2 separate regions of the Homo sapiens genome follow, and region 1 is linked to region 2. Evidence: fine-mapped expression QTL. A gene starts in region 2. The other region holds a variant in brackets. All regions are shown on one strand. Distances are from middle to middle.

Evidence for each region. PIP is the estimated chance that this variant, and not a neighbour inherited with it, causes the effect.
Region 1: its variant is the best candidate, but not a certain one, in a credible set for the expression of C1orf174 in follicular helper T cells (Schmiedel 2018, PIP 0.77).

The regions. Positions count from the first base shown.
Region 1 is chr1:4,142,620-4,158,201 of GRCh38, forward strand. No RefSeq gene overlaps it. Among named protein-coding and RNA genes, the nearest start is that of LINC02780, 170 kb to the left of the region's middle. RefSeq lists enhancers at 9,462-9,963, 9,964-10,463. The variant T/C (reference allele first, on the strand shown) is at 6,453.
Region 2 is chr1:3,892,288-3,906,836 of GRCh38, forward strand. C1orf174 (chromosome 1 open reading frame 174) reads right to left here and starts at 7,985. Exons shown (of 4, transcript NM_207356.3): 1 at 7,885-7,985; 2 at 596-709. The coding sequence starts at 7,899. It overlaps LINC01134 (long intergenic non-protein coding RNA 1134), which reads left to right and starts at 8,117. Exons shown (of 4, transcript NR_024455.1): 1 at 8,117-8,344; 2 at 11,678-11,749. RefSeq lists enhancers at 7,077-7,647, 7,648-8,216, 8,217-8,786, 8,426-8,685 and silencers at 7,736-7,805, 8,886-9,065.

The sequences.
Region 1 (15,582 bases), 250 kb after region 2:
TCTGCCCGCCTCGGCCTCCCAAAGTGCTGGGATTATAGGCGTGAGCCACAGCGCCTGGCTCAGCCCTTCCCATTTCCATCCTGGCTGCCAGGAGAGATGGGATTTCGTGACCCATTGCTCCGCTGATTTTCCCAACACATTATTGAGATGCTTCAGTGCTCCAAGCCAAAGTCACAACAAATATCCTTTCCCCTCCCCCGATCATTTCTCCAACTCACTCTGGCTCCCGAGGACTTGGTGCCATTGGGCCCAGGAAGAGTGAAGTGGCTGAGGAGCCCTTTACATGAGTGTAGGGAAAGGCAACCACAGCCTCCTTAGCTGCAGGCAGGTGCAGACAGAACACAGCACGAGAGCCTGCATGTGTGTTTGCGTGTGTGTGTGTGTGTACACACAGACACATGAATGCTGACGTATGTGTACATACATGTGCATGTAAGAGTGTGTGTGCATGCCTGTGTGCATGTGTATGTGTGTGTCTGGTGTTGTCACGGGGAAAGCATGGGAAAACTTCTCTCATCGGTTTCTGGCCTCTTGTAGTCACAGCACAGACCTAGTTCTCAGGTGGAATTCTGCCCCTGGATGTGATGACCTCCTGGGCGTATCATCTGGGCCTGGCTTCTATTGGCTGTGGCATGGGGTGAAAGCTGTCATTGTTACTCTATTTCACAGAGTCCTTATCCCCAGCTAAAGAGTCTTCAGGGTCAGATTCTTAATGTGATTATTCTGAAACTCCAAGTCAATGACTTATCTTATGAAAACCTCTGCTACCCACAGGTTACTGGAAAAACAAGCAAAATCCTTCTCTCACTCTCTATTAGACCTAAGATACATTGATGCTGTTTTCACAGTTCATGGTTCAGGGAAATTTACATTTGATTCCTTTCAGAGAATATAAAGGTAGCTCTTACATAAGAAGGAGTAGGGCTAAAAGAGATGTTGGTATAATTTAAACACTTAAAATTGCAATTTAAAGAAAGACTTTAAATATTTTGGGCCTATGACATCTAACTGCTGACTCCCAGGTCAGTGAATGGGGCTGGGCAGAAATTTTGGGAGCGAGATAGCAGAATGTACCAACAGAAGGGCCCAGTGGTGAGCTGGCATGTCATACTTCACACATAAATAGACTATATGAGCCATTTATCTTCTCATATATGCATCATCCACTCAGGATTTGGTATCAACAATATAATAAACCCCATCTTTTATGTAGGCATTTCCTACATAAAATAAACCTCTTTCTACTGAACATAGTTCAGGAAATTCATGGTCATTGGCTTTGTTATCCTTTTTGTGTAACTCACTGTGTCGAGAGAGAAGCATTGGCAGCCAGGCTGTCCTTGGAATTGAATTTACTTAATGTGAGCCACCTGGTCTCCTCTCCTTGGGATGCCAAGAGGAAGCGTCACCTTAGCACTCTGGCCTCTGCCCTTGGGCACCCAGGAGAAGAGGGGGCCTTTTGGTTTGCACAACACGGAGAAGGTGTGCAGGGCTGATCGATGGAGCAGCTGCCTAGGTTGGAATCCCAGTCAGACCCTTGCCAGGTAGGCAGCCTTGAGCAAACATAAGCTCCAATGTTCTCATTTGCAATTATTGTCCCTATGTCATAGGACTGCTGTTGGGGTAAAATGAATGAATATGTACAAAGCATTGAAAACAGTGTGAACACTTAGTAAATGCCCCATGAATGTTGGCTGGGTGTTGTCATCACATGATCACCATGATCATCGTTACCACTACCACCACCATCACCACTATCATAGACACCGTCCTTACTTTCATCACGGTAATTACTATCATGATTACCACCGTCATCATCACCATCATCATTACATCATTGTCACCATCACCACCACCACCACCATTATCATCACCACCATTCTTACTATCATCACTGTGATCACCATCATCATTACCACCATCACCATCACCATCATCATTACATCATCATCATCATCACCACCACCACTACCACACCACCACCATCACACCATTATCATTATCATCACCACCACCACCACCACCACACCACCACCATCACCATTATCATTATCATCACCACCATCCTTACTATCATCACTGTGATCACCATCTTCATCACCACCAACACCATCACCATCACCATCATCACTACCATCATCACCACCATCCTTACCATAATCACTGTGATCACCGTCATCACCAATACCATCATTACCATTATCATCATCACCATCGTTACCATCTCCATCATCACCATCATCACCATCACCACCACCATCATCATCATAATCGTCATCATTATCACCATCACTATCATCACCATGACTCTCATGGTGGATCCCTTGGCTTAGTAGTAGGCACAGAGAGGTTTAAGGAGCTATGACTAACAGAAATGAAAGTCAGAGTGGTTGTGCTGGAAATAATAAAGGAAGTATTAGTACTCTTATTGGGTGCTATTACCATCGCTATATTATAGACAATAAAGAAGCTGAGGCAGAGAGAGGCTGTGAAACCTGCCCAGCATCACACAGAGGAGTCAGTATTTAAACTGGGAAGTCTTGATTAAACTCCTAACCCTGGAAATGTTTAAATCCTGGAAGGAGGATGGCTTTGTAGGGTGACTACAGAGTCCTCAGACACTAGTGAGATGCTTTGAGTAAGTGACTTAAAGTCTTTGAGCACTGAAAGTCTATGATTTCATGAACACTATGGAATCATAAGTCTATGATTTTATTCAGGGAAGTGAAATAGAGTGAGTTGAATCAAATATTTTGAAACAAAGGCTTGGATGCTCCAGGGGAGAGATTGGACTATTAAAAAATAGCAAATGGGATTTAGTTTTCAACACTGACATGCTGTCTGTGGTTGGGCCAGGCCCCGCCCACCTGAGCTGCCCATAGAGCTGTTCCCAGAGTGCAGAGATGACTGACTGCCTGAATCACATTTCTAATGCTTGTCTAACTGTTTCTCGTTTGATTCTTCTCTTATTGGAGTGTTGAGAGCTACGACGAGCCAAAGCTCCCTTTAGGGCAGCAAACCCCAGGAAAAACATAAAACAGTTCTCGGCCTGAATTCAGGATAAATCCTGTCCCCCTCATTATAAAATACCTATTATGTCCCTTTATCTCCAAGTGAGCAGCGTTATTTCAATTTAACAGTGTGTGAGAAATGTCCCACGATATAATAAAAAGATCAAGCATGCACTATTTAATGTCAGAATGACAGATGCTTCAATTAGGCAGACAGGACTATTTCTCCCCAAAATAGATAAAGATGAAATTTTTATAAGATTGTGCTGTTTGTGTTTATGGTATGGTACTGTTACAAGCTTTCATTACAATATAAATTAAAACAAAAACTCTTATTTCAGTGGAAACCGACCATCTTGCTAATAATTTTGCAACTCAGAACCGCTGTTTATCAAAGCCCTCGGTCCTCTCACCTGGGAAGAGAAGTCTTCACAGACCTGAGGCATCATCAGGTAACAAATCTCACTCCGACATTCAGAAATCCTTTTCCAAGAGAGACAGAAAGGCATGTTTCAAAGTTATCGTTTGGTCGAAGCTTGTGGATATATTTTTGACATGTGAACTTTTCTTTTCTCCTTGGTCTTGATCTCAAGTCACCGGACAGAGGATACTCAATGGGTGATTGCAAAGTCTGGGTGGGGGCCGGGGCACTAGTTTAGGTTCTGTCACTTGTCTGTCCCTCACCCTCAGCAGGTGCAATTGCTGCAGCTCCACTCACTACCAGGCCTGCCACTCTGGAGCCTCTTGGCCATCTGAGTCTGTAGCTCAAAGATTTCAATGTTTCTTTAGCATCCTCTAACCCACCGTGGAGGATTTTCTCAATCAATCCTATCACTACGAAAGAGACGTTGGTACCATTGACAGCCATGTATTCAGTTTCTAAAGCTTAATTTCTAGTCACTCCTCCGCTTTCCATTTTAGGGTTTTATATTCTCCAATCGCCATGAGAACACATCTTTTTTTTATAAATGGGAAAATGCATCATCTCTGTAAAAACATTTGGAATTACATAACCAAATGTCTGGTTCCAGGAAAATGATGGGCTGAGGTAGCGTGGCGTGTCCCCTACTAAAAATGCACAGAAATAACAGGTGAACTATAACCTTTCAACAGATACACAGTGTGGAGTATATGAATGCACGCCTGCACACACACACACACACACACACGCACACATTTGGAATGGCCCTGGGCTAGAAATTAACAAGGAACAGGAAACGCTTGAGCTGTAGGTGCCTTAAATGGAGTAGTGAGACTGGGAGGGCCTGGAAGCTGGATTTCTGAGTTGTGATGTTCATTAAGGGACTGGTATGAGGCCTTGGGCCCTGCTGAGGTGGGTGGTGCAGGGTGATTGAAAAATGGAAACTCCTGTTTCCCCTATGAATCTGAAGATCAAATTTATACTGCCAACATGATTCTTCTTTTAAAAAAATTACAAATGAATCTACCACAGAAATGGTATATTCCATGGGAATCTTACAAGCTCCAAGTTCCGAAAGTTTTCCTCTAGAATTTGTCTTTGTTTTCATTATAGTGCATCTTCTTCTATCATGACCAGAGGGGTATCAGCCACTTGGGACCTGTTTCTTAGCTTGGGATTTACTGGCTTCCCCCAAGAGTTCTCCCTTGATCGCCAGCATAAACTCAGCTTCCAGTGAGTGCAGAGGCTGTCTCTGATTTCTACCCTGGGTCTCTGCCCAGCACAGGGCCTGATACCTGGCCGGTCCCTGGTGTTTGGTGGCGGCTGCTGAGTGAGGATGTGGAGGAATCACCGTGGTTCCCTGTGTGTGCCCCTTAGTTTCCCTTCTGGGACGCTATCCCCTGGTTTAAACAGCAACTTAGGTCGAATGAATTAAAACAACTCGAGGGAGGAAATGTAGTGGAGAACACCTTTCATCCAGTTAAAAATTTTAAAAACGTGAATAGCTGTTTGAAGACATTTTTCCCTCCGTGCCGTGAGCCTGGCTCTTTCTCCTCTGCGAGCAGGCTGTGTCTTGACATGGAAGGCGGGGCTGATACTTTTAAACAAAGGACTTTTAATAAAGCAGATTCATCATTCCAAGGGCTTCTGTTCCAACTGTCAGGCCTACCGTCAAGAGAGGGAGCGGTGGCGCAGAGCTTCTAAAGCGCTGGTTTCACAGGAGATACAAAGAGATAATTAGAACCACGGGTAAGAAGATCATAGAGCGAGACACCCAGACGAGGTGGGGGAGAGAGGAGCAGTGAGACATGGGTGGATTTAGCCCTCAAAGTCACTGGGCCATGAAGGGGGAACAGGAGCTGCGTGTCCCCACCTGCCCCTGCCTCGCTGGCCGCACCTCCCTTCGCTGAATCTGCAGCCGGGGAAGACGAGGTGGGCAGGAGCCATTGTGGAATCTCTACCCCCACCCCATTTTTTTTCCCTAAAAAGTGGTTTATTTGGCTGGGCACAGTGGCTTATGCCTGTAATCCCAGCACTTTGGGAGGCTGAGGTGGGCGGATCGCCTGAGGTCAGGAGTTTGAGACCAGCCTTGCCAACATGGTGAAACCCCGTCTCTACTAAAAATACAAAAATTAGCTGGGTGTGGTGGTGGGTGCCTGTAGTCCCAGCTACTTGGGAGGCTGAGGCAGGAGAATCACTTGAACCCAGGAGGCAGAGGTTGCAGTAAGCAGAGATGACATCACTGTACTCCAGCCTGGGTGACAGAGCGAGATTCCATCTCAAAAACAAACAAACAAACAAAAAACTGGTTTATTGTGCTGGGTAGCTTCTCCCTTCTCTCTGCTTGATATTAGGTGCCAGACACAGTGCAATGTTCCTCATTCAACACAAACCTGTCCCATGTATAGAAGAAGAAAGCACAGATGCCCACAGAGGCCCAGCGACTTGCGCCAGGCCTCACAGCTACCAAATGGCAGGGTGGGACTGGGAGCTGGCTCCAGCCTACTGAGAGGACAGTCACTGCTCAGGGCCTTTAAACGTACCTAAAGGTCCCCTCTCTTGCTTTTCTTCTTATTTTCTATGTCCAAGGAGTTGCTTGGCTGGGCACCAGCTCCAAATGGAGGCCAGGGCATTCCAGAGAGAGAGATAAGCGGAAGCCCATCGGCCAGGTGGAGAGTGCCCCCTCCTCGGCAGGATCCTCCAGGTGGAGAGTGCACTGCAGGAGAGAGGGTCTGTGCTCAGCTATGATCTGCCGGTAGGGTGGATGTTTCACAGCAGAACCTGCTCCAAGACCCAGCTGTGCATGGTGGGGTCGGTTCTGCCCTGTGCCCTGGAACCGCCCTGTCATTCATGAAAGAATCCCAGCCTTGATGTGGGACAGTTCTGCAGCCTCCATCAAGGTGGCAAATAGAGCCCCAAACCATCTCGCTTTATTTGGGACTGAGGGGGTTCCTGGGATGCAGGACTTTTTGTGTTAAAACTGGGAAAATGGGGCTGGGCCCGCCCTTCCCCTGTTTCCC[T/C]GTTGCCAGAGCTCATGGTCCTTATGAACCGCAATGGTCAGGTGCTGACAGAGCCTAGGCCAGCTAAGCAGGTCCCAAGTTAAACACCTGCTCCTGGAATTGACCTCTCCCATACGGACTTCTGCCAACCATAGATGTGGTTTGATGTTTTCTCCTTGAACCCCATTAGGCCCCAATTTTCACATGACGCTGGAGCATAGAGCCGAGAGGGAGGGATGCCACACACACTCAGGGACTCGGTCAGGGACTTGGTCCTGGGTGGCAGAGGCTGCAGGACTGTGGGAGGGGTTGGTGTGGAGTCCTTGCCACATCCTCACAGCTCCCCCAGGGGTGCTCCTGAGCCTAGTGCCCGCACACCTGTGGCAGAGGGGTGGAGGGCTCTGAAGGTTACACGTGTCACACTCAGCACCATGGGCAAGCCACAGTCCTGAACCACTCACCTCCTGAGCTGAGCCTGCAGCCTGGCAAGGAGTGGCGGTTGCAGAGCTGACTTTCAGAACCTGAAACCTTTGTTAGTGCCTCCGAACCCCAGGCACCAGGTGGGCCTCCTGAGCCATCTGAGGCCTCACAGGACTGTCCAGAGGGTCCGAAAGTTCTCCCGGACCTGGAATCCCCATTACCATCCTACCGCCCAGACACCGTGGAATAGCGTTTTGTTGCAGCAGTTACTGAAACTGCAATTTGCCCTGTAAAGATGGTTGTTTAGGCTTGTTTTATTTAGCTATGTTTGCCTACGAATCAGCTCTAACGGTATTCTATTTAATTTCCCTCTCCCAAATAGCATGACGCTTAATGTAAACCAATTACTACAATTTTGCTTTCTAAGAAATCAGGAAATGTAATCAAGGAGATGCAATTTGTTTGCTTTTCATGAAATACTAGGGTGCGGTAGCAACAGAAGTGGCAGGAGTGGTCTTTGGAGGGATCAGAGCATGCATGTGTGAGCGTGTGTGTGCGAGAGGTGAGTGAAGCCGTGTGTGTGCATGCATCTGCATGTATCTCTCCACGTGTGCCTCTCTGGGTCTGTGTGTGCGATGTGTGCATTTATCCTGAAAGCTGCGCACAGGCCTGAACCATGAGAAAGCCCAGTCCGCTTACACAAACCCTGAAGTATTAAGAGTTTCACAAAAGGCTGACGGGACAGACCTTCATTCACAGACACGTAGGGCTGACCCGGGAGAGGAAAGATTTGCTTATGGCCAATTGACTGCCCATAAAGGTTGATTGGGCATAATAAGAGGCATTTTATTTTGAATCTCTTTCTCATTGTGAATGATAATCAGGCTCCTGGGGACAGAGGTGAGTGATCTAACACAGAACAGTGTCCAGGGGGCAGCATGAGCACCAAGAAAAGCCTGGAGAGTGGGGGAGGAGGCTCCCTCTCTGAGGGCCACCAGGTCAGAGCTGCCCGAACACCCTCTGGTCCCAGCGTCAGGGCAGGGCGACGTCAGGCTGAGTGAGACAGGCTCTTTCCAGCAGGTAGTTCCCTCTGCGCCCACAGACTCCTGGCTCCGACTGCTGGTTCGCTGGTCTCTCTCCAGGATGGGCAGGGATAAGACCTGTGAGGGGTTTGGGGACTGTGTCCTCCAGCTCTTAGGCCCGAGGGTTGTGGCTGGCCAGCAGTTCTCACCTTCATCCTCCAGCCTTGGATTCTGACCAGAGAGTGAATTCTCTGATTTCTTTCCCTTCCTTGGAAATCTCCTATAACCTGCATAGCAAAGAGGTCTCCTCCTTCCAGGCTGCAAAAATGGGAGCTCAGAGACTGGCCCAGAGGAAGCGGCAAGAGGGGACGGGCCCTCAGCTGGGGGCTCTCCAGGGTCTGCACCACACCAGGTGCCTGGTGCTCTGGAAGCACAAGGTCCCCTCTGTGAAAGTCACTCTTGTCAATCCCCAGGAGGCTGGGGCAGGTCTTCAACTTTTTTCTGTTTAACTCTTTTTTTAAAAGGAAAAACGTTTACTTTAAAAAGTAAAATTTATGTAGCATACAATTCACCATTTTATTACACTTTTAAAATTTATTTTTAATGGACAAATAAAAATTCTTCATACAATGCACAACATGATGTTTTGATCTGTGTATATTTGTGGAATGGCAAAATCAAGCAGCTTAACACATGTGTTATGAACTGACCGTGTTCAAGCGGACAACTCAGTGGCATTTGGTGCATTCCTTGTGTCACCATCAGCTCTCTTTAGTTTCCAACCTTCTCATCACCTCAGAAGAGACCCCGGATCTATTCACTCCTTAACTCTTTAAGGCCTGGATTCTTTCCTTTAAAAACTGATGTGAGGCCGGGCACAGTGGCTCATGCCTGTAATTCCAGCACTTTGGGAGGCCAAAGTAGGTGGATCATGAGGTTGGGAGATCGAGACCATCCTGGCTAACACGGTGAAACTCCATCTCTACTAAAAATACAAAAAAATAGCCGGGCACGGTGGCACGTGCCTGTAGTCCCAGCTACTCGGGAGGCTGAGGCAGGATAATTGCTTGAACCTGGGAGGTGGAGATTGCAGTGAGCCGAGATTTCGCCACTGCACTCCAGCCTGGGTGACAGAGCAAGACTCCATCTCAAGAAAAAAAAAAAAGAAAAAGCTGAGGGGAATGAATGTTGTCTTCAATTTCCTTTATTATTTTCATCATAAACGCCTTTGCACATGACCTGAAGGGTCTCACTCCGCTTTCCAGTGGTGCCTTCTTAGAACCTCACACTCAGCCTCCAATTTCTTTTCTTTCTTTCTTTTTTTTTTTGTGACGGAGTCTCACTCTATCGCCCAGGCTGGAGTGCAGTGGTGTGATCTCGGCTCACTGCAAGCTCCGCCTCCCGGGTTCACCCCATTCTCCTGCCTCAGCCTCCTGAGTAGCTGCGACTACAGGCACCCGCCACCACGCCCGGCTAATTTTTTGCATTTTTAGTAGAGACGGGGTTTCACCGTGTTAGCCAAGATGGTCTCAATCTTGTGACCTCGTGATCCTCCTGCTTTGGTCTCCCAAAGTGCTGGGATTACAGGCATGAGCCACTGCGCCCGGCCCCCCAGCCTTCGATTTTCTTCTGAGTCTGGCTGGGGCTCCAAGGTAGTGACTCCTCAGGAGACACTATCCAGCCTGTAGCTTCAGGGGACTGTAGGGGACTTGTGGGGTGGGGGCAGAGCCTACAGGTGCACTCACCTGGGTCCACGTGTTCCTTCAGGGAAGGCTGTTGAGTTCTGTGCATTCAGCAGAAAATAGGGCACAGCAGTGGGTTCTTCACAGTGATTTTCATGAAGATTGAAAAATGGGACTCACCCCGCTGAGTGCCAGGAACATACGAGACAATGGATAAGGTGCAGTCACTGTGTTGGAGGATTCAGTGAGAAAGCCTACGCGTGCTTAGCACACTGTGGGGGATCTGAAACATCAGCCTCCCTTTCCCCGTGGGGGCGTGGGGCTTCCCTTACTTGGTCCTGGTTACCCCCCACGGGATGCGGGGCCTTTGCATGCTCCCAGCAACCTCCCTCGACACGATTCTCCACCTTTCTACAGAGGCAGTGATGTCCCTGTGGGGCTCACGCCCAGGGATGCCTCAGAAATTCCCAGCTGGTCACAGCTCCCTGTAACCCATAGGCCCTAGCACCTGCACACTGCCTCTCATGTTACTCGCAGCGTGTTTCAGAATGGACGCAGAACCAGAGACAGAAAATCTCTCCTCTGAGCTGCTTGGTGTCATTCCCCCAGGATGCCAGGAAAGCCTGAGCCCAGTGCTCCAGTGACAGGCCCCCTCCCCAATCCAGGAGCGATAGCAGACACGAGGGGTGATGGGGATGCGACAGCCCGTGGCAGCGGGGCCCTGAGTCACTGTCCTTTAGAGCAGTGTCTTGTTGGGAAAGGAGGGCTGGGATTTGCCTGAGGGGGACTGAGGAACAAGGTGCCTGTGAAAGAGGAGTGGGGACTCAATGCCAGCCCCCACCATGCAGTCCCCATGTTACAGCGCAGGGTGAGCGTTCATTCCGGCCTTTGCTTCTCACCCTTCTTAAACAACTGCCCCAGAACCTGCACTCTGGGGACCAGAGAGAACTGTCCACATTCCCAAGACCCCCTGGAAAGGGGAGGCAGGGCTTCTTCTGCACTTGGCTCCCAGGGAGACATGAGGACGAAGGTAGGGTGAGGACCAGAGTCCCTGCCCCAGGGCTGGGCATCAGGCTTGGGGACCAGGAGGCAGAGGAACCATCAGGGATGGTCTAGGGAAAGGGAAGCCACCTCACAGTGCCAATACCCCCTCTTGATGCAGTTTTGCTGCTCTGGGCTGTTTCTGCTGCTCCCCCCACATCGGCAGTGGTGCAACCTGGATGTCCTGCCCTACCCCGACATTCCCACGTCTTGCCCCGGCCCACTTCTCACGGTGGTTCCGGTTCTCCCAGTGTGTTATCGCACAGCTGCTCATGGGGTCCTCAAGGGAGGTGGGAGAGCCTAACCCAGCAGCCCAGTGCATGGAACAGAAAAGGCACTAGCATCCCCATGAAGCAGGATGCTGTTCACAGAGCTCTGGGCCAGAAGCTGCTCTGGGGGACCAATGAGGCATGACCAGATGCTGGTGGTCGGCCATGGCTTCAGCCTCAGGCTGCTGTGACAGAGTGGTACACTGGGGACTCAAACAACAGACATGAATGTCTCACAGTCCTGGAGGCTGGAAGTCCAAGGTTGGGGTACCGGCATGGCCGGTTCTGGTGAGGGCAGAGGGCTGTCTAATTGCTGTGTCCTCACGTGGCCGAGAGTGGAGACAGAGGGGCAGCAAGTGCTCTCATGCCTGTTCTTATAAGGGCACTGATCCCATTTGTGTTAGTCAGGGATCTCCAGAGGAACAGAACCAATAGGAGAAATGCAGATAAACAGGAGAGGGGATTTATGAGGGGAATTGGCACACACGACTATGGTGGCTTACAAGTCCCATAGAAGGCCGTCTACAAGCTGGAGATGCAAGAAAGCCAGCAGTGTGATTCGGTGTGAGTCTGAAGGCCTGAGAATGAGGGGAGCTGATGGTGTGACCCCCAGCGTGAGGCCAAGGGCTGGAGGCATCATCTCAGGGGGTGTGGGGCTTGAGAACCAGGAGCTCCAATGTCTGAGAGCAGAAGATGTGTGTCCCAGCTCCAGAGGAAAGAGAGAATGAAATTGCCCTTTCTCCACCTGTTGTGCCCTCGTGATCCTGCATGGACTGGGTAACGCTCATCCACATTGGTGGAAATGGATCTTCTTAATGCAGTCTGCTGACTCAAATGCTTTTGGAAACACAGTCACAGACGCACCCTGAAATCATGCTCTACCAGCAACCTGGACAGATACCTGTTAGCCCAGTCAAGTTGACACAGAAAATTCTCCATCACGCCATTCATGCGGGCTCCACCTTCATGACCTAATCTAACACTAACCTCACAAAGGCCTCAGTGCCTCACACCGTCACCATGGGGATTAGCGTTTCAACATATGGGTTTTGGAGGGACACAAGCGTTCAGTTCCTAGGAGTCAACCAGGCACCAGGGCCAGTGGCTAACATTTCCTTTCCCATATAAAAGATGCTAGGATTCCACTTTTCCAGCCTTGGCACAATAGGAAAAAAGGAAAAACAAACAAACAACACCTCCTCTTTTAAGAAGAAAGCGCTAAATTCAATGATTCTATCTCAATAAGAAGGAAAAGTTCACTTAGAAGATTTTCTCTTGTTATTGAGTCACATCTCCAGGTGGCTGCTGCCTAGACTCTCAACCACAGTCATTTGGGAAAAAATCAGTCCTGTGCACTCAGGGCTGACACTATTGTCTTGTCACCTAATTTTTCTTTCTTTCTTTTATTTATTTTTTTTTTAAAAGATTTATTTATTTATTTATTTAGTTTTTAACAGGCTCCATTGCCCAGGCTGGAGTGCAGTGGCACAGTCACAACTCACTGCAGCCTTGACCACCTGGGCTTAAGCCATCCTCCCATCTCGGTCTCCTGAATAGCTGGGATCACAGGCGCCCACCACCATGCTGGGTTAATTATTATTATTATTATTATTATTATTATTTTGAGACGGAGTCTGGCTCTGTAGTCCAGGCTGGAGTGCAGCGGTACCATCCTGACTCACTGCAACCTCCGCCTCCCAGGTTCAAGCGATTCTCCTGCCTCAGCCTCCTGAGTAGCTGGGATTACAGGTGTGCACCACCATGCCCGGCTAATTTTTTTGTATTTTTAGTAGAGGTGGGGTTTCACTGTGGCCTCGAACTCCTGACCTCAAGTGATCTGCTTGCCTTGGCCTCCCAAAGTGCTGAGATTACAGGTGTGAGCCACTGGGCCTGCCCACATTTTAAAAAAATTATTTGTAGAGCTGGGGTTTTGCCATGTTATTCCAGGCTGGTCTCAAACTCCAGGCCTCAAGTGATCCTTCTGCCTTGGCCTCCCAAAGTGCTGGGATTACAGTCATGAGGCACTGCACCCAGCCTGATGTTTCGTTTGATGCAATTGTCTCACTTGTGAGTCACAGGTTGGACTTTACAGAAGCCCTCAAGGAGAGTCAGACTCCATACTTAAAAAAACTAGATTAGGTAAAAAAGACTTGGATTCTACGAAATCACTTCGGTTGTCTGTGATTGTCGTATAGCAACTATTTTCCATGATCAAAGTATTTATTTATTATTTATTTATTTAGAAAACCTCTCACTTTGTCACCCAGGCTGGGGTGCAGTCACACGATCACAGCTCCCTGCAGCCTCAACCTCCTGGGCTCAGATGATCCTCCCACCTCAGCCTCCCAAGTAGCTGGGACTACAGGCACCCACCACCACACCCAGTTAATTTTTGTAATTTTGTAGAGACATGGTTTTGCTGTGTTGCCCAGGCTGGTCTCTAACTCCTGAGCTGAAGCGATCTGCTCCCCTCAGCCTCCCAAAGAGCTGGGATAAGAGGCCTGAGCCACTGTGCCTGGCCCAAAGTATTTATATTTAGAATATTTACATTCCATGACCCTGGGTCCTAATCTATTCCTCAGATATTAAATAGCTTCTCAGGCATTTGCTGGAACAAATCGCATGCAAATCACTTTGGACTGTGGACCCTGGAAGCTGCCTCTTGAGTGTGTTGGGGCAGTAGGAAGATTCTGAAAGGGCTTTTTGTGAGCAGGCACCAGCCCAGTGGGGAAGAGGGTTTGGGGAGAGCTTCCCGTGGGCCACATCCAGTGTGATGCCGCCAGATGAGACCCCAGGGGTTTTGACCCCCAGGGCCATAGGTACATTTGAGGTGGCCACCTGCGTCCTGGCCTCTGGAGCCAGGGAAGAGCTCAGAGACTGTTTCCTGACTCCGACCAGGCCTAATGTCCGCTGTGGTCCCAGTGCAGGAGGCCGGGTGAGACGGCTGTGCTCACGGGCCCCTCCCTCATGGTGAGCCTGCTCTCGCGAATTCTAGCTGGGAGGCAGGAGGGGGCAGAGGGGAGTGCTGGGAGCTGTTCAGGTCCTTGCACGGAGCCCAGAGACCAGGCAGTGTCTTTGGAACCAAGACAAGTGTGGGAGTGTCTAATGAAAGCAGAGACCCCCAGCTTCACCCATTCCACAGTGGCACCCCCACAATGCTCTCTAAGGAGGTGCCTGGACCTGCCACTCTTCCTATTTCATCTTCTACGTGCTCCCTCCTGCTGCCTTCCCACCCTCCACTAAGACTGCTCCCCCAGCACTGTCACCAGGCTGCCATGTCCCCTGGTCAGTCTGCATCTCAGCTAATGATGTCACTCCTCCCTCGTGGCCTCCAAGGCCCATCATTCTTGAGGCTGCCCCTACCCAAGGGCTCTGTCTGGGGCTGGCGCCTGCCCTAAGCTCACCTGTGCTGCCCAGGCCTCCAGGCCTCTCTCTCCTCTGCCAGCCCTTTCTCCCCAGTGACCTCATTTGATCCTGCGATTGGCAGAATAATGGTCCCCAAAGATGTCCCCATCCTAATCCCTGGCACCTGTGAATACGTGATCTTACGTGGCCAAAGGGACTTTGCAGGTGTGATGATGTAAAGGATGCTGAGACGGGGAGAGGACTCCGGATGATCCGGGTGGGGCTGATGTCATCACAGAGTCCTGGGAAGGCACAGAAGAGGGGCAGGCGGGTCAGAGGAGGAACTGTGACAATGGCAGCTGGCTGTGGGTGCTCGTTTTTCCTGCAGGAGAGAAGGGTGCCCCTTGAGGCAGGTCTTCTGCAGAGTGGACCTAGGATCCGGGGCTGTTGCTCTCAGCAAAGACTCCATAAAGAGACTTCAGGGCTGGGCGTGGTGGCTCACGCCTGTAATCCCAGCATTTTGGGAGGCCAAGGCGGGTGGATCACTGGAGGTCAGGAGTTCGAGACCAGCCTGACCAACATGGTGAAACCCTGTCTCTACTAAAAGTACAAAAATTACCTGGGCATGGTGGTGGGTGCCTGTAATCCCAGCTGCTCGGGAGGCTGAAGCAGGAGAATCACTTGAACCTGGGAGGTGGAGGTTGCAGTGAGCTGAGATTGTGCCATTGCACTCCAGCCTGGGTGACAGAGTGAGACTTCATCTTAAAAAAAAAAAGAGGCTTCAGGGGAAGCGCCATCAGGACCCAGTGGCTGGGGACAGGTGAGGGCTACTGCCTAGGGTGCCTTGGCACAGCCAGCACCCAGTGGAGGTCGCAGCATTAAAAACAGCACGGGCAACAATGCTGGAAGGCGGGATGGGCAACTGTCGTCCCATTCTGAGGTACCGGGGGTTAGGACACTTCACTTTTCTTTTTTCTGGGGGGAGACACAGTTCAGCCTATAACATGGCCTGTTTCTTGCAGGTTTGCTAGTGCAGGTGATGTCCCTTCTCATTTTCCTCCAGAGCTGGGACCCCTGGATAAGGAAGGACACCTGGGAGGGAGGCGACAGCCAGGAGGGCAGGGATGGCCTGGGACCCCCATCCCATAAGGATGTGCCCAGTGGAAATGCCCTTCCCTTCTCCTCTCCAAGTAGCGGGGGACAGATCCTCGGGATGTGAAGTTGTCTGAGGTCCATTCTAACTGGGTTATTCCCCGTCCATCTCGTCAATAGCACCATGAACCGGTGCAGGAATTGTAAGTTTCATTGTGATGTCTTGGTGATGCAGCTCACACCAGAAGCCTGCATCTGATAGTATCACCGACACCCTCCA
Region 2 (14,549 bases):
ACACACACGGGTGGGCGGGTGCTAGGATCAGGGCCCGGGTCTAGACACACACACGGGTGGGCGGGTGCTAGGATCAGGGCCCGGGTCTAGACACACACACGGGTGGGCGGGTGCTAGGATCAGGGCCCGGGTCTAGACACACACACGGGTGGGCGGGTGCTAGGATCAGGGCCCGGGTCTAGACACACACACGGGTGGGAGGGTGCTAGGATCAGGGCCCGGGTCTAGACACACACACGGGTGGGAGGGTGCTAGGATCAGGGCCCGGGTCTAGACACACACACGGGTGGGCGGGTGCTAGGATCAGGGCCCGGGTCTAGACACACACACGGGTGGGCGGGTGCTAGGATCAGAGCCCGGGTCTAGACACACACACGGGTGGGCGGGTGCTAGGAGAGCCAGCCCTGGCCTGCAGAGTGTGTCTTTCTCTGAAGGCAATTACAGTGCTGTCACCTTTTCATCTGCAATAGTCCCCCTCTGGCAGATAAGTAACAGTCGATATTTTTCTAAAGCAACACATCTTGGAGTGGCAATTTTGTATAAAAATGGACCCTCGAGTCAGGATCTTGGCGTTCTCCACGGTAACAGGGCTCACCAGACATGCTGTCTTGGCAGACGTGGAACCAGCAACTTCCTGGGCAGAGGCCAACCTGGCTGCCGAACAACTTCGTGCTTTCAAGCGCGCTGAAGACCGCACTGCACCTGTGAGCTAGAGAGATTGAGAGCCACTCAGAGAGTGCTCTCAGGAAGGCAGCATGAACATGTAGACGAGAATTTCCCACCTAAAGAACACCCGAAGACCGCCCCTCCCACTCCCAGGATTTTATCATCTTTGTGGAGACAGCTGTGGCCCGAATGTGTAAATCCAAATGAAACTGTGCCTGGATTTAGGATACAGGATCTACTATTTCCACGATTTTGGAGGCTTGGGACGATCTGTCCCCCTTATCTTGTATATTTCTAGTAGCCACCATTTGTCCTTTAGTGGAAATTAAGTCAACTTCAAAGTGTTTAGAATAAGCAGCACATGCCCTTCCTTAGAAGGCTCTCCAACTTTCATACGTTGTCAAAGTTTTTAAAAAAAGGTAACATGAGGAAACCAAAGTTTCTCTTCCTCAAATTAGACTCCTATTCTATTAGCTGAATGCAGCTAGCGACTGTCTCACAAATTTTAATATTAACAAACTGGTCCACCTCTCTTTTATCCTGAATGCAAAGCAAACTCCTCTAATAACAAGAAAGAAATTAATTAAAGACATAACATTTAAAATAACTATTTAGGAATAATTTTCGGCATTCAGAAAGTTGCAAAAAATAGTACAAAGAAACTGGTGTGATAGCTCACACCTGTAATCCCAGCTACTTGGGAAGCTGAGGTAGGAGGATCGCTCGAGCCCAGGAGTTCAAGACCAGCCTGGGCAATACAGCGAAAGCCCATCTTTAAAAAATTTTTTTAAAAATTAGCCAGGTGTGGTGGTGTGCACCTGTAGTCCCAGCTATGTGGGAGGCTGAGGTGAGAGGATCACTTGATCCCAGGAGTCTGAGGCTGTAGTGAGCTATGACTGCACCACTGCACTCCACCTGGGTGACAGAGTGAGACAGTGTCTCTGAAAAAATAATAATAATAAAATAGTACAGGGAGTTGCCATGTAGCCTTCACTCAGCTTCCACTAATGTTAAACAACTACAGGACATTGTCAACATTAAGAAATTAGTGACATTACGGTACTCTTCACTAAACTATAGATTTTATTTGTATTTTATCGGTTTCTCCATGAACCGTTTTTCTGTTCCAGAATCCAGTCCACAATACCACACTGCACTTAGAAAACTCGAAAGGAATGAGTGTGAGTAGTAGAAGCAACAAACAGGAGCAATGCAGGTTGACATGGCCGGGAAAGGCCCAAGAGCTGCTGCCAACAGGCCCTAGAACTGGAACCCAGAAGGGGACGGATGAAGAGTGCCCTGCCCAACAGCAGATAAGAGAAATAAAAAAAGGAAAAAAACAAAAAAATAAAACACAGAAATAATCTGTCTCGGCTGGGCGCGGTGGCTCACGGCTGTAATCCCAGCACTTTGGGAGGCTGAGGCAGGTGGATCACAAGGTCAGGAGATCGAGACCATCCCGGCTAACACAGTGAAACCCCGTCTCTACTAAAAATACAAAAAATTAGCCGGGCGTGGTGGTGGGCGCCTGTAGTCCCAGCTACTTGGGAGGCTGAGGCAGGAGAATGGCGTGAACCCAGGAGGCGGAGCTTGCAGTGAGCCGAGATTGCGCCACCGCACTCCAGCCTGGGTGACAGAGCAAGACTCCGTCTCAAAAAAAAAAAAAAAAAGAAATAATCTGTCTCAGCCATGCACCCCGTAGCCCAAGACAGCTCCAGAAACCCTGTGGGGTGGCAGCTCCAAGGTCCTGTGATACTGTGGCAGTCAGAGTGTGTGTCTGAAACAGGAGGGAGAAGAGCAGGCAGCAGCCCACCGGAGGCCAGGACGCCCGCCTGCTGTACACAGGACACGCCAGTTGCCCACAGGCTGGGTGAAGTGCCTGCTACCACAGCACACCGGGGGCTGCGCCTCCGTCCTCTCACAAGGGCAGGGCTTTGCTGAGAGCCCCGGCAGACGTCATGGTCACAGTTACACCAAGGGGACTGAGGCAACAGAGGTTACAGAACTTGCTAAGAGTTGCCATAAACATCTCTCATCAAAATCCTCCCACTGGGTCTTAAACAAGCCCATCTCCCTAAAACGCCATCACGTGCCTCGTAGGGAAAAGACATCTCTGACCTAGAAAGCCACTGCCCCACCTCTCCTCCCTGCTGTGAGCCCTCCTCCGGGCGCTTTGCTGCTCTGTGCTGGAGTATGCTGTGTGGGGAGCCCAGCTCGGTGCCTGAACAGCTTTAAAGGAGTGGCACACCCATTTCAGATGAGGACAACTTGGGTAAGGAGCTTATGAGGTTATACGAGTGATGCCTGGCTTCCAAATCTCTATTCCATCACCACAGCTCACCCTAGATATGACCCCCAACAACTGCCTGAGGTGGGGATTGAACTGAAGAAGCTGCCACCCGCTCTGTGTTCTACGCCTGCACGTCTTTTCCCGCAGCAGGTGCTTCTCAAGGCTTCTGTCAGCATCTTGGCAGCAGTGGTTCTGAACTTTTCGCGTGCAACAGGTTCATCAGGTGGACCTTTTGGCCCCTTCTGCAGAGAAAAGCCAGATGATCTGCTGGGCTGGAAGCGCTGGCTGTTAACAGACACCTGAGGATCTGGTGGGCCTGGAAGCGCTGGCTGTTAACAGACACCTGAGCAGGCCATTTGCTGTCCTCTCCGGATTGACAGGAGTCAAAACATGAGATCGGCTTAGCTTCAGTTTCGTCATGGATTAACCACCTCCAAGGTGTCAACTCCAAAATGTCAAGAATTGGTCACAGTCTCACTTGCAGATTCCTGCTCTGCAGCTGGGCAGCTTGGACTGCTCCCACAGTCCAAAAAAGGAAAGACTTTCTCATCATTGAGATTCTCCTCATTCCAGTAGATTGTTTAATAACTGGTATGTCAGAAGCACAAACATGGTTTCTCCAAAAGGGCTGGCCGAGACTGACTTCAACATGATGGCTCGAGGAGCTTCACTGACCTTCTCAGAGAGTAATGAGCAGTCCCAAAACAGCCATTTAGAGAGCCTTTGGAAATGGTCCTATGGGCACCCAGCAAATGAAGAAACACTTGCTCCAGAACACCTACATACATTTGGTAAGGACACGGAGAGTCTGTGGCACTTGAGCTCCATCCTGCTGCAGCCAAGAACACAGGGCCACCTCCCCAGCTCCCAGGCAGCGGGGTGTCTTCCCAGGAGAGGCAGGATAGCAGTGCTTCCCTTTCTGCTCTCATCCCACCTGTGACTGAGACCAGGTCCTGAGTGAGTAGGATTGAGAAGAGGGGCCCTCCTTTCTGCTCAGACCCTATTTGTAGAATGAAGGCTTCACCTTGGCTCCATTCTACCAGTACGGTTTAAGCCTCTGCAAGAGGCTCCGCCCAGTGAACGGAGAAGACTGGGGCCCCATCAACCCCGTCCTAGATATGAGGTGGTTCCAGGCTGGGGAAGACACATTTGGAGGATCTCAGGCTGCTGCTAGCTCCCCCAGCCCCTATTCAGAGAGGAGCCCATTACTGTCCTCAGCTGCAGGCCCTGGCTCAGAGGCTCTGCCTGGGATGAGAGGCAGGCAACTAAACAGACAGCTCTTACACCTGCCCAAAGGCACCAAATTCCCTGCCATGGAATGTGGAGAAGTTCCGGCCTAAGGGAGCTGTTCAAGTACCGTGGATGCTGTGACGAAGGGGGTGGAGGCAGTGGAGAATCAAGCAATAGGCCAAATTGTAGGCCAACCAGTTCGCAGAAGAGAACCAGAGACTAACACGGCTGGGAGGAGGCCTCTTGGACACAGAACAAACTAACCAAACACTGACCTTAGAAAGTATCCCTTCGAAGAAGCCACAATTTGATTGGATTAGTTTGTAGAGCAACTTATGCCCAGGCTGTTGCTGAGAACAGCACAATAACCTGGCATTAGCGAAGTTCAACAGCTGGATGTGGTCAGGGAAAGAGGAAAAGGACCTCACTAAAACCACTGTCATCCAGAGTGGCTGGGTGCCACCCCCCACCAGCAACATCACAGGCTGAACACTGTGGCAGGGGAAATATACTTTATCAAAACAATCTACCCAGTTGCTAAACAAATAAGCATATTAACAATGACAAGCCCCAGGGTTGGGGACAGTACCCAGAATTGCTAAAATGTATTATCTAAAATGTCAAAAAAATTATGAAGGCATAATTCCAACAAAAAATTATGAAGCACTCAAAGAAAAAGAAAAGTAGGCTCATACACTGGAATAAAAGCAGGCCACAGAAGCTGTCTGTGAGAGTGACCAGATGTTGGATTTATACATATATAAAGGACCAAGGTAGCCATGATAAACAATATCAAGATCATGAATAAAGAAGAAACATAAGATAATGCTGCATCAAAGAGACTATCAATAAAGATAAATTACTTAAAAACCAAATGGAAATTCTGGAGTAGAAAAGTACAAAACCTGAAATAACAAAATTCACTAGAAGGGCTTAATAGTAGAACTGAACTGGCAGGATAAGCAAACTTGAAGACAGATCGATAGATTATGCATGCTGAAGAACACAGAGAAAAAAAGAACGAAGAAAAATAAAGCAAGCTGCAGAGAAATGCTGGACATCATTAAGTGCACTAACATACACAAAATAAGAACCACCAGGAATGCAGAGAGAAAGGAGCAGAAAAAATATTTGAAGAAATAATGGCTGAGAACTTCTCAAATTTACAGAAAAACATTAACCTATATATCCAGGAATCTTTTTTTTTTGAGACGGAGTCTCACTCTATCGCCCAGGCTGGAGTACAGTGGCATAATCTTGGCTCACTGCAAGCTCCGCCCCCCAGGTTCATGCCATTCTCCCGCCTCAGCCTCCCAAGTAGCTGGAACTACAGGCGCCCGCCACCACGCCCCGCTAATTTTTTGTATTTTTAGTAGAGATAGGGTTTCACTGTGTTAGCCAGGATGGTATCAATCTCCTGACCTTGTGATCCGCCTGCCTCAGCCTCCCAAAGTGCTGGGATTACAGGCGTGAGCCACCGTGCCTGGCCCCATATCCAGGAATCTTAATGAACAGAACTCCAAATAGGATACATGCAAAGAGATCCACAGACACATCACTGTAAAAATACAAAGATCAAAGGCAAAATCTTGAAAGAGAACAAAACCTTGAAAGCCCCAAGAAGAAAGCCACTTAGAAGGGAACCTCAATAAATGAACTGACTGAAACAATGGAGAATATTCAAACATATTCAACATGCTCAAATAAACTTGTCAACCAAGAATCCTATATCCAGCAAAGCTATACTTCAAAAATGGGCTGGGCATGGTGGCTCATGCCTGTAATCCCACCACTTTGGGAGGCTGAGGCAGTGATCACCTGAGGTCAGGAGTTTTAGACCAGCCTCGCCAACATGGTGAAAACCTGTCTCCAGTAAAAACACAAAAATTAGCCGGGCGTAGTGGCAGCCTCCTGTAATCCCAGCCATTCCAGAGGCTGAGGTGAGAATCACTTGAACCCGGGAGGCAGAGGTTGCAGTGGGCCGAGATCACACCTCTGCACTCCAGCCTGGGCAACAGAGTGAGACTCTGGTCTCAAAGCAAAAACAACAACAACAACAACAACAACAACAACAACAACAAAACTCACTTTACAAGAAACACTAAAAGAAGTTCATCAGGCTGAAAGCAAGTGACCCCAGACAGTAATTCAAAACCACACACACACAAAAACAGCACCAGTAAAGGTAATTATGTTCTTATATAGTTTAAATGCCTATTCCTCTACCTCCTTCTCTTAATTTAAAAAGCAATTGTATACAGTAATATGTGTATAATATATACAGACATGTACTATATTTGCCAATAACAAAACAAAGTGGGTGAAAGCAAACCCCTGCTGGCTAAGGAAATGACCACAGACAGAAAGTAATAATGATAACACAGTACTGTTGAGTTTGTAACATTATCAGATGTAATACATATAACAAAATACCACAAAAATAACCATATAAGAGTAACATTTCTGTATCACTTGGAATTAACCTAGTACAAATCTGAAGCTTAAGATGTATATGGAGAATATGAAGATTAAGCTGTATACGGTAAAACATAAAGCACTGGAAAAAACCCAAAAAAGTTGTGGAAAAAAAATCATTAAATTAAAATGCTACATTAGGAAATATTCACTTTAATCCACTTAAAGAAGGAACAGGGGAAGAAAAAGACAGACTTGTATAAAGAAAAGAAAAAGTAAAATGGCAAATGTAAACCTAACTACAGTGTATCAATAATATTAAATGTGCATGGGCTAAACAATTCAATCAAAAGGCAGAAACTACCAGACTGCATTTTAAAAAAGATCCAAGTATATGTGCCTACAGGAGACAAGTTTTGGTTCAAAGATAAAAATAGTAAAAGGAGTTGGAATTCACAAGTGGCCACTCCATTTGAACAAACCAGGAGAGCCTCCATGCAGCTCAGAGCCTCCCAAGTGGACCGGGACCCGCGCCGGGTCCACTGTGAAAAGGGTCCTTCGCCTTAACTGTTACACCCACGCAATGAGCACTTGCCCCTTGCCAGACACTGGCACCCCCCTTCAATCCTCACCACCCTCTTGGTGGATCCCTCATCACCCCACTTTTAGCACATTCAGTAGATGGGGCCAAGCTGAGGTCACTTGCTGTGTGACGTCCATTGGAGTGGCAGCAGTTGAGGGGCACAAACTCAGCTCTGCAGCATCTAGCACTACCAGGAGTTGAAACCAGTTCTGGAGAGGGTGCCCCACCTTCCTAGGAAAGTGGCCCGAAACCTCCCTTCAAGGGGGCGTGACCTGGGAGCCCCCTGTTGCCCAGGACGTGAACTGTGAGCTCCACTTCTCCCGAGGGCGTGGACCGGAGCCCCCCTTCTCCCGCGGGCATGGCCTGGGAGCTCCCCTTCTCTCGGGGGTGTGGCCCAGAGGCCCCATTCTGCGGGGGTGGGTAACCTGGGAGCCCCCTTCTCCCGGGGACGTGACCTGTGAGCTCCACTTCTTCCGAGGGCGTGGCCCGGAGCCCCCTTTTCACAGGGGCGTGACCTGGCAGCCCTCCTTCTCCCGGGAGCGTGGCCTGGAGCCCCCCAACTACTGCCGGGGGCGAGGCCCAAGCGGAGGCCGCTCCTAGGCCACAGGCACCCCGTGACCCCGCCCCGGTTCTCCAGACAGCAGGTGACCCAGAGTCCCCGCCCTGCCCGGCGCAGCTGCTGCCGGGACCCAGCCCTCACCTTCCGGCTCCTCATGAGTGTGAGCACCGCAGCCAAGCACCGCGCGCCCCGGCCAACGCGTCCCGGCGGAGCGGCGACCCGGAGTCTGCAGAGCGCGCCGCGGCGGCGTCCGACGTCAGCACAGCCAATCACAGTGCAGCACCCTCGTCATGTGATTCCCCCCCCCCCCCCCCCCGTGTTGGCTCTTTCGTAAGCGGCGGGCGAAGGTCACAGGCCTTGGGCCAGTGGTGGGACACTGGAGCAGGAAGTCGGCCTGTGGCCGGCCATGTTCATGAGGGCGCGTCCCTTGGCACCCCTGTAGCCGCTATGTTTCCCACGCCCGTGGCAGGCCTGAGAGATTATGTTTGCGGGGGGTGCTTTTTTTGTAGCTTCTGTGTTCGCCATATTTGAAAGGGGCAGACGGCCATGTTCGTGAACGGCGCTTCCCTTGGTGCACCTGTGGCCGCCATGTTTGAGCGAGGTGGGCAACTATGTTCTTGAGGGGGGAGCAACCATGTTCTTGAGGGGCTCTTCCCTTGAAGCCTCTTTGGCCACCATGTTTGAGAGGGGCAGACGGCCATGTTTGTAAGGGGCGCTTCTCTTGGTGCGCCTGTGGCCGCTATGTTTGAGAGGGGCAGGCAACCATGTTCGTGAGGGGCGCTTCCCTTGAAGCCTCTTTGGCGCCATGTATGAGAGGGGCGGACGGCCATGTTTGTGAGGGGCTCTTCCTTTGGTGCGCCTGTGGCCGCCATGTTTGAGAGGGGCGGGCGGGACGTCCGTGAGGGGCCCCTCCCCTTGCATCCCCTGGCTAACAGCCTGCAGGAGGGCGGGAAGTGCTTTCTCCAGTGCCGCAGAGCGCTGGTTTCTGAGTGCCGGTTAGCGGCCTTGAGCAGCGCGAGGGACTCCCAGGCCTGCCCGTGCTGCGGTCCCGCTGGGGAGCTTTGCGCGCTTGTCGCAGGCTGTGCTGCCCCGCGACATGCCGCTTTGGGTTGGGGTGGCCCGCCCGGGAAGTGGCCTCAGCTGTCCCCCACGTTGCGGGCGGGAGGGGGCCTTAGTGGAGGCCGTCGGTGGGCCCAGGAGGCCAGGGTCCGGCGTCGGGCTGGGGGCCGGTTTTCGTCCCCCGTTACGTGCAAGGCGGGAAATGACCCCTCCGCCGTCCCGTTACTCTCCGGGGCCAACGTGGACTCGCAGGGGCCACGCCTTTTCCAATGGCCACGCCCCTAGCAGGCCTGGGTGGACCCGCAGCGGCCACGCCTCCTCCAATGGCCGCGCCCTATCAGGTCTGGATGGACACACGGCGGCCACGCCTCCTCCAGCAAACACGCCCCTAGCAGGCCTGGGCTGCTGTGATGCGTCCTCTTTGGCCGCCGCTGAGGGAGGTGTTTGTAAAGCTGAGGACCACTGTTCTGTTGTGGGTTTTTTTGTTTGTTTGTTTGTTTTTTGAGACGGAGTCTCGCTCTGTCACCCAGGCTGGAGTGCAGTGGCGCGATCTCAGCTCACTGCAACCTCCGCCTCATGGGCTCAAGCCATTCTCCTGCCTCAGCCTCCTGAGTAGCTGGGATTACAGGCAGGCGCCACCACACCTGGCTAATTTTTGTATTTTTAGTAGAGATGGGGTTTCATCATGTTGGTCAGGCTGGTCTCGAACTCCTGACCTCAAATAATCCGCCCACCTTGGCCTCCCAAAGTGCTGGGATTACAGGCGTGAGCCACCGTGCCAGGCCCACTGTTCTTTTCTTTTCTTTTTTTTTTTTGACGGGAGTCTCGCTATGTCGCCCAGGCTGGAGTGGAGTGACGCAATCTCGGCTCACTGCAAGCTCTGCCTCCCGGGTTCACGCCATTCTCCTGCCTCAGCCTCCCGAGTAGCTGGGACTACAGGCTCCCGCCACCACACCCGGCTAATTTTTTTGTATTTTTAGTAGAGACGGGGTTTCACCGTGTTAGCTAGGATGATCTCGATCTCCTGACCTCGTGGTCCGCCTGCTGCGGCCTCCCAAAATGCTGGGATTACAGGCGTGAGCCACCGCGCTCGGCACACTGTTCTGTTCTTAAGAATTTCAACATAGAAATGAAATCCAGCCTTGCCTTAAACCCTCCAGCCCTCAAGTTCTCTGGGCTCTAGGATGTGTGTCTTCAGAAAAGGGCGCAGGGTGGAAGCCACATCAGAGGCCGAGGACACCTGGCCCCTCCCCTCTCCGCCCGCAGGTGGCTGCGCAGTCCAGGGCTGGCTCCCAGGTGCTCGGGCGCAGGGTGCACCCAGCAGCCCGTACTGTGCTTTGCAAATAAATGGGAGTCTTATTTCCTTTTTAAATCATTATTTTTTTTTTCAAGTGAGAACATTTAAATCAGGCAGTTTTGTCAGAAGCATTAGGTTTTCCACTTAAACTACAAAGGTTGAAAAGTGAACTGCATTGCATTGTGGCTTCATGGCCTGCTCAGGGTCCCTCTGTGCACTGTTCCAAGGCAGGGTGTGATTCATAATCTCTTCCAAAAGCATCAGTGTGCCTTCTCTTACGGTATGACTCTCTCAAAGCCCAGACATGCAGCTGATGCCTCCTTTTAGTGCCTGAGAAGGGAGAGTATTTAAGGATCCTGCCAGCTTGAGCTCTATGCAGCCTCCACTCTCTTTAGAAGTGTGACGTTTGGTAATTAGGTGGAGCCCTCAAATTAGACTGCACGTGGGGTTTTGCTTTCGGCAGTGAGTGAAGATGCTTGCAGCCCTGGTGTACACACACACACACATGTCCTACCTGGCTGTTGTACCCTCTCTCTTCCTAGCCCTGCGCTTCTCCCGTGTTATTATCCATGTTGTACAGAAGGGGAGGAGACAAATGTGTAACTGGCAGGAAATGCGTTTGAAATGGAAACTTAATATAATCGCTGCCAGCTGTTCAGAAAAAAATGAGAGCGAGCGATACTTTGTTAAACACCTAGCCTGTCCCATTTTCGCAGAGATTGATTTCATAATAAGCTTGGTTCAGTGGTTTTATTTCCCAGTCCTTGGGAGCTCAAAGTTTTCATCCACTGGGGCTTGGCTGGTGTTTGCCTGTCTTGTTTGTGGTTGGTGCCAGTTGATGTAAATGCCTCACTGCCTGGCCTCGCCCGCCCGATGGGGGCTCTGGGCTCCGAGCCATGTGGACTTTTAACATCCCAAAGGGCACTCTCCTTCCCTTCACCAATGTTGTCTGTCCTCTCCCCAGGTCTGGGATGAGCATGGTTTCCAGCCTCCCAGCTGTAAGGCCTGACACCCAGGCCATTGGTGAATGTCTCTCTCTCCCTGCCCACATCCTGTCAGATGCCGGTTGCTGTTAATTCTAGACTTTGAAGCCTCACGGCTGGTCTCTCCTTTTCCTCTGGCCTGGGCAGCCCACAGCTGTTGGGGTGATCCCCTGCTTCTGGGATCCAGAGCCACAGTCTTAGAGTGGCCTGTAAGTCCTGGCATGGTGCCTGGCACACTGTGGGTGCCCAGCAGGTGTTTGTCCAATGAATGTGCGGAAGGGCTTCTGAGCTTGCTCACCGTTGCCGCTCCCTGCTCCAGCCGCACAGAGTCCCAGCACCTGTTCCCCTGCCCCTCTGCTATCCACAGTGCCTCCCTCAGCTCCTGACCACTGCAAAGCCTCTTCCCCACTTCCCTGTGCCTGAAAACCTTCTTTCCCCAGCTCCCCAACCCACGTTTTGCCTGGCTAATCCATTTGTTAAACCTCAACTCAGCTTATATCTCCTGTCCTCAGGGGGCCCTTCCTGGATGCTCCCCCGCCCCCTACATTCAATCTGCCGGTTGCTGCTTTTTTAGTGTTCTGCACTCTTCTACCAGGACCCCGTGGCAGGCCAGGACCGTTTCTCCGGTGCTATCCCAGAGCATGGCGCATCCACTCATTCACTCAAGGTATCAAGCTCCACTGTGTTCTGGGGACTGGGCCAGGCGCAAGCCCAGGCATGGAATCATCACACAGAATTGTACGTTTGCAGTGTGATGGGAGCCACGGGGGAGAGGCCACATGGGCAACAGCACAGAGCTGGGGGTGTCGGGTGAGGATCCTGGGAGGAAGTGGCTGGGGCCCCCTCTCCCTCCCTCATCCTGTAGGATGCAGGCCCCTTTCAGGCCCACCCGGGGGAAACAGAGCCTCCTAGTCAAGGCTGGATGTGCAGTGGAGCCCTGTCTGGACAGGCTACCCCTCCTGACGAGGTGGGAGGTGTTGGCGTGGGCAGAGGAGCCAATCTTGAATTCTCTCCCCCGCTCCACCTCAAGCTGCCATGTGGAATTGCAGGAGACCCTGGAGGGAGCAGAAAACCAGGCTCGGCCGAAGCCACCTCCACACCACGGTTTCCTGGGTTCCCCAAAACCAGGCTTGGCCGAAGCCACCTCCACACCACAGCTTCCCGGGTTCGCTGTGTCTGCTTCTGTTCTTATTCCTGATTAGCTGTGCCCCCACCCGGCCAGGTCAGGGCACAGTGAGACTCCCCATGGTGGCAGGCGTGTGAAGTCTGTGCAGGCTTGTACGTGGCTGGCCCCCCACCTGAACTGTACGCCCCTGGAAGGCAGGGTCCGTGTTTTGTTCACGGAGGCTGGTGATACCCAGAGGACATTGGCTGGCTGGCTGGCTGGCCGGGGGCGAGACGCACACAGAGAACTTGAGGATTGTGGATTGGAGGAAACTTTGCATTCTTGCCCATACCACAAATTTCTGACTTAAAACACTGCTGTGCCCCAGTTCAGTATTTGCCTTTGACAAACACTGTAGGGCCAGTGAGAAAGTTGAAGAGATTTTTCAACTGACTAGCAGTCGGTAGACCCGTTAACTGAGGCCACCCCGGCCAGAGCACATTGCATTCCTGCCAACAGATGGTGGCCTGTATGATGACAGGGCCTCTCTTGCATATGGCCTTTTATAATTAAAAGAAAGAAGTAATAGGTAGAAAGAGAGAGAGAGAGGGAGAAGGCAGGGGAAAAAAAGCTTGCAGCATGCTTTTAAAATGTCATCGCACCACTGCACTCCAGCCTGGGTGACAGAGTGAAACTTTGTCAAAAAAAAAAAAAAAGTTCTCTTTGAATTGACCTAAACTAATGTTTTCTTAATAGCCCACCCTCTCCTATCCTCTCGGTCCACCCGACTTAGCTGGGCAAAAATAACCCTGTGGTAGGACAGCCGTCTGCTGTTGGAAAGTATCGCAGCTCCTCCCGTGTCTGCCCCGTGCACATGTGCCAAGGTCCTGCCTTGAATGAAGGACACAGCGGAGAAGGATGTAGGCTCTGAGCCTGCTAGGGTGCCTGAGAGACTCACAGGACTACCCCTGGGGCAGTTGGAAGATGCCCAGAAACTTCAGGGAGCCACCAGCATGGGGCAGAGGGTCTCTTCTGGAGTTGGTGGCATCAGAATCAGGTGTAGAGTACATAGGAACTGTTGGCGCCGTGCAGAGATGGGGAAGGAGGTGCCGGTGGAAGGGCCCAATGCCTGCGCCCCTGGGGCCCTCACTGGAGGCTGAGCATCCACTGGACTCTTGTAGCCCGCTTTGTAGACTGATCAGTAGTCTGTGACATGACGATGTTTGAGTAGAGTAGACCATTTTCTGCTTCATATATCCTACAACGTGCTGGGATCAGGAGGCAGTGGTGGGTCCATGGCATCTGACCCAGCCCGACGCCCTTGTGGTCTCCAGGCGGTCATGACCCATGGCCTGACCCGGCTTGGTCAGCCCGGCCTGGCCGTGTCTTCCCAGGTTCACACCCAGCCCTGGCCCCTCTCTGCCCCCTTGCCAGGAAATTTGAGTCCTCCTTAACGTTTCTCAATATTGTGGTTTTGTTTTGTTCTTTCTCATTCATTTGTCTTTTAATTTTTGGCTTCCGTTTTTTATGGGCACCTAATTGTGTGTGTTCTAAAAATTGAATTGTGCTTCTGTTCTTATTGATGGCAGCTAACCATCACTGTGTAAGTAGGCAGGATGTGGAGGTCTACCTAGGAGAACTCGCTTGCCTCTGCTTTTCACCGACGCAGGCCCGGTGGAGATGCTCCAGCGGAAGCCAGGACTTGTCTCCTGGTGGAGTCCACCGGTTTCATTCATCAAAAGTTTGTTGGGCTCTCTGCACACACGTTGTAAAGAGCACTGCAGGCAGTGCACAGGCAGGGCTGTGGGAGCTGTGGGCGTGGCTCCCGCCAGGGTGGAGCTGCACCCTCCATGGGGAGTCATGGTGCATGTGCACAGCTGCAGAGAGAGGCTGCAGGGCAGGAGAACCTCGGGAACCCCGTAGTCTCCGCTTGCCCTGACTGTATGAAGAACATGCTCCATTTGGGTATCAGTGAAACTGCACACCAGGGGGGAACATTCAAATCGTGAACTCCAACATCATCCAGCAGAAAAGCTCCGAGCGATGGGCCACTTTGTGCCTTGCTGCCAGCCCTCCGCTGGGATCACGCTGCAGTGTCCTTTGAAGAAAAGGCCTGGGATTTGCAGAGCCTGGAGAAGGCTAAATTTCCAACTAGATGAAAAAAAAAATTGCCATTTTATGAGAACCTTTGGGCAGTCTGGAAGAAAAACACCAAGATGAAAAGCCCTATTTTGAGAGCTCCCTTGCCTTCAAGCAGGGGCCGCTGGCAGTGGAAACCGGCTGGGGATCGGGCTGATGGCAGAGTGAGGTTCAGGCTGGGAGCGGGCATGTGGACAGGTCCCTCCCTGCAGATCCACGTCTG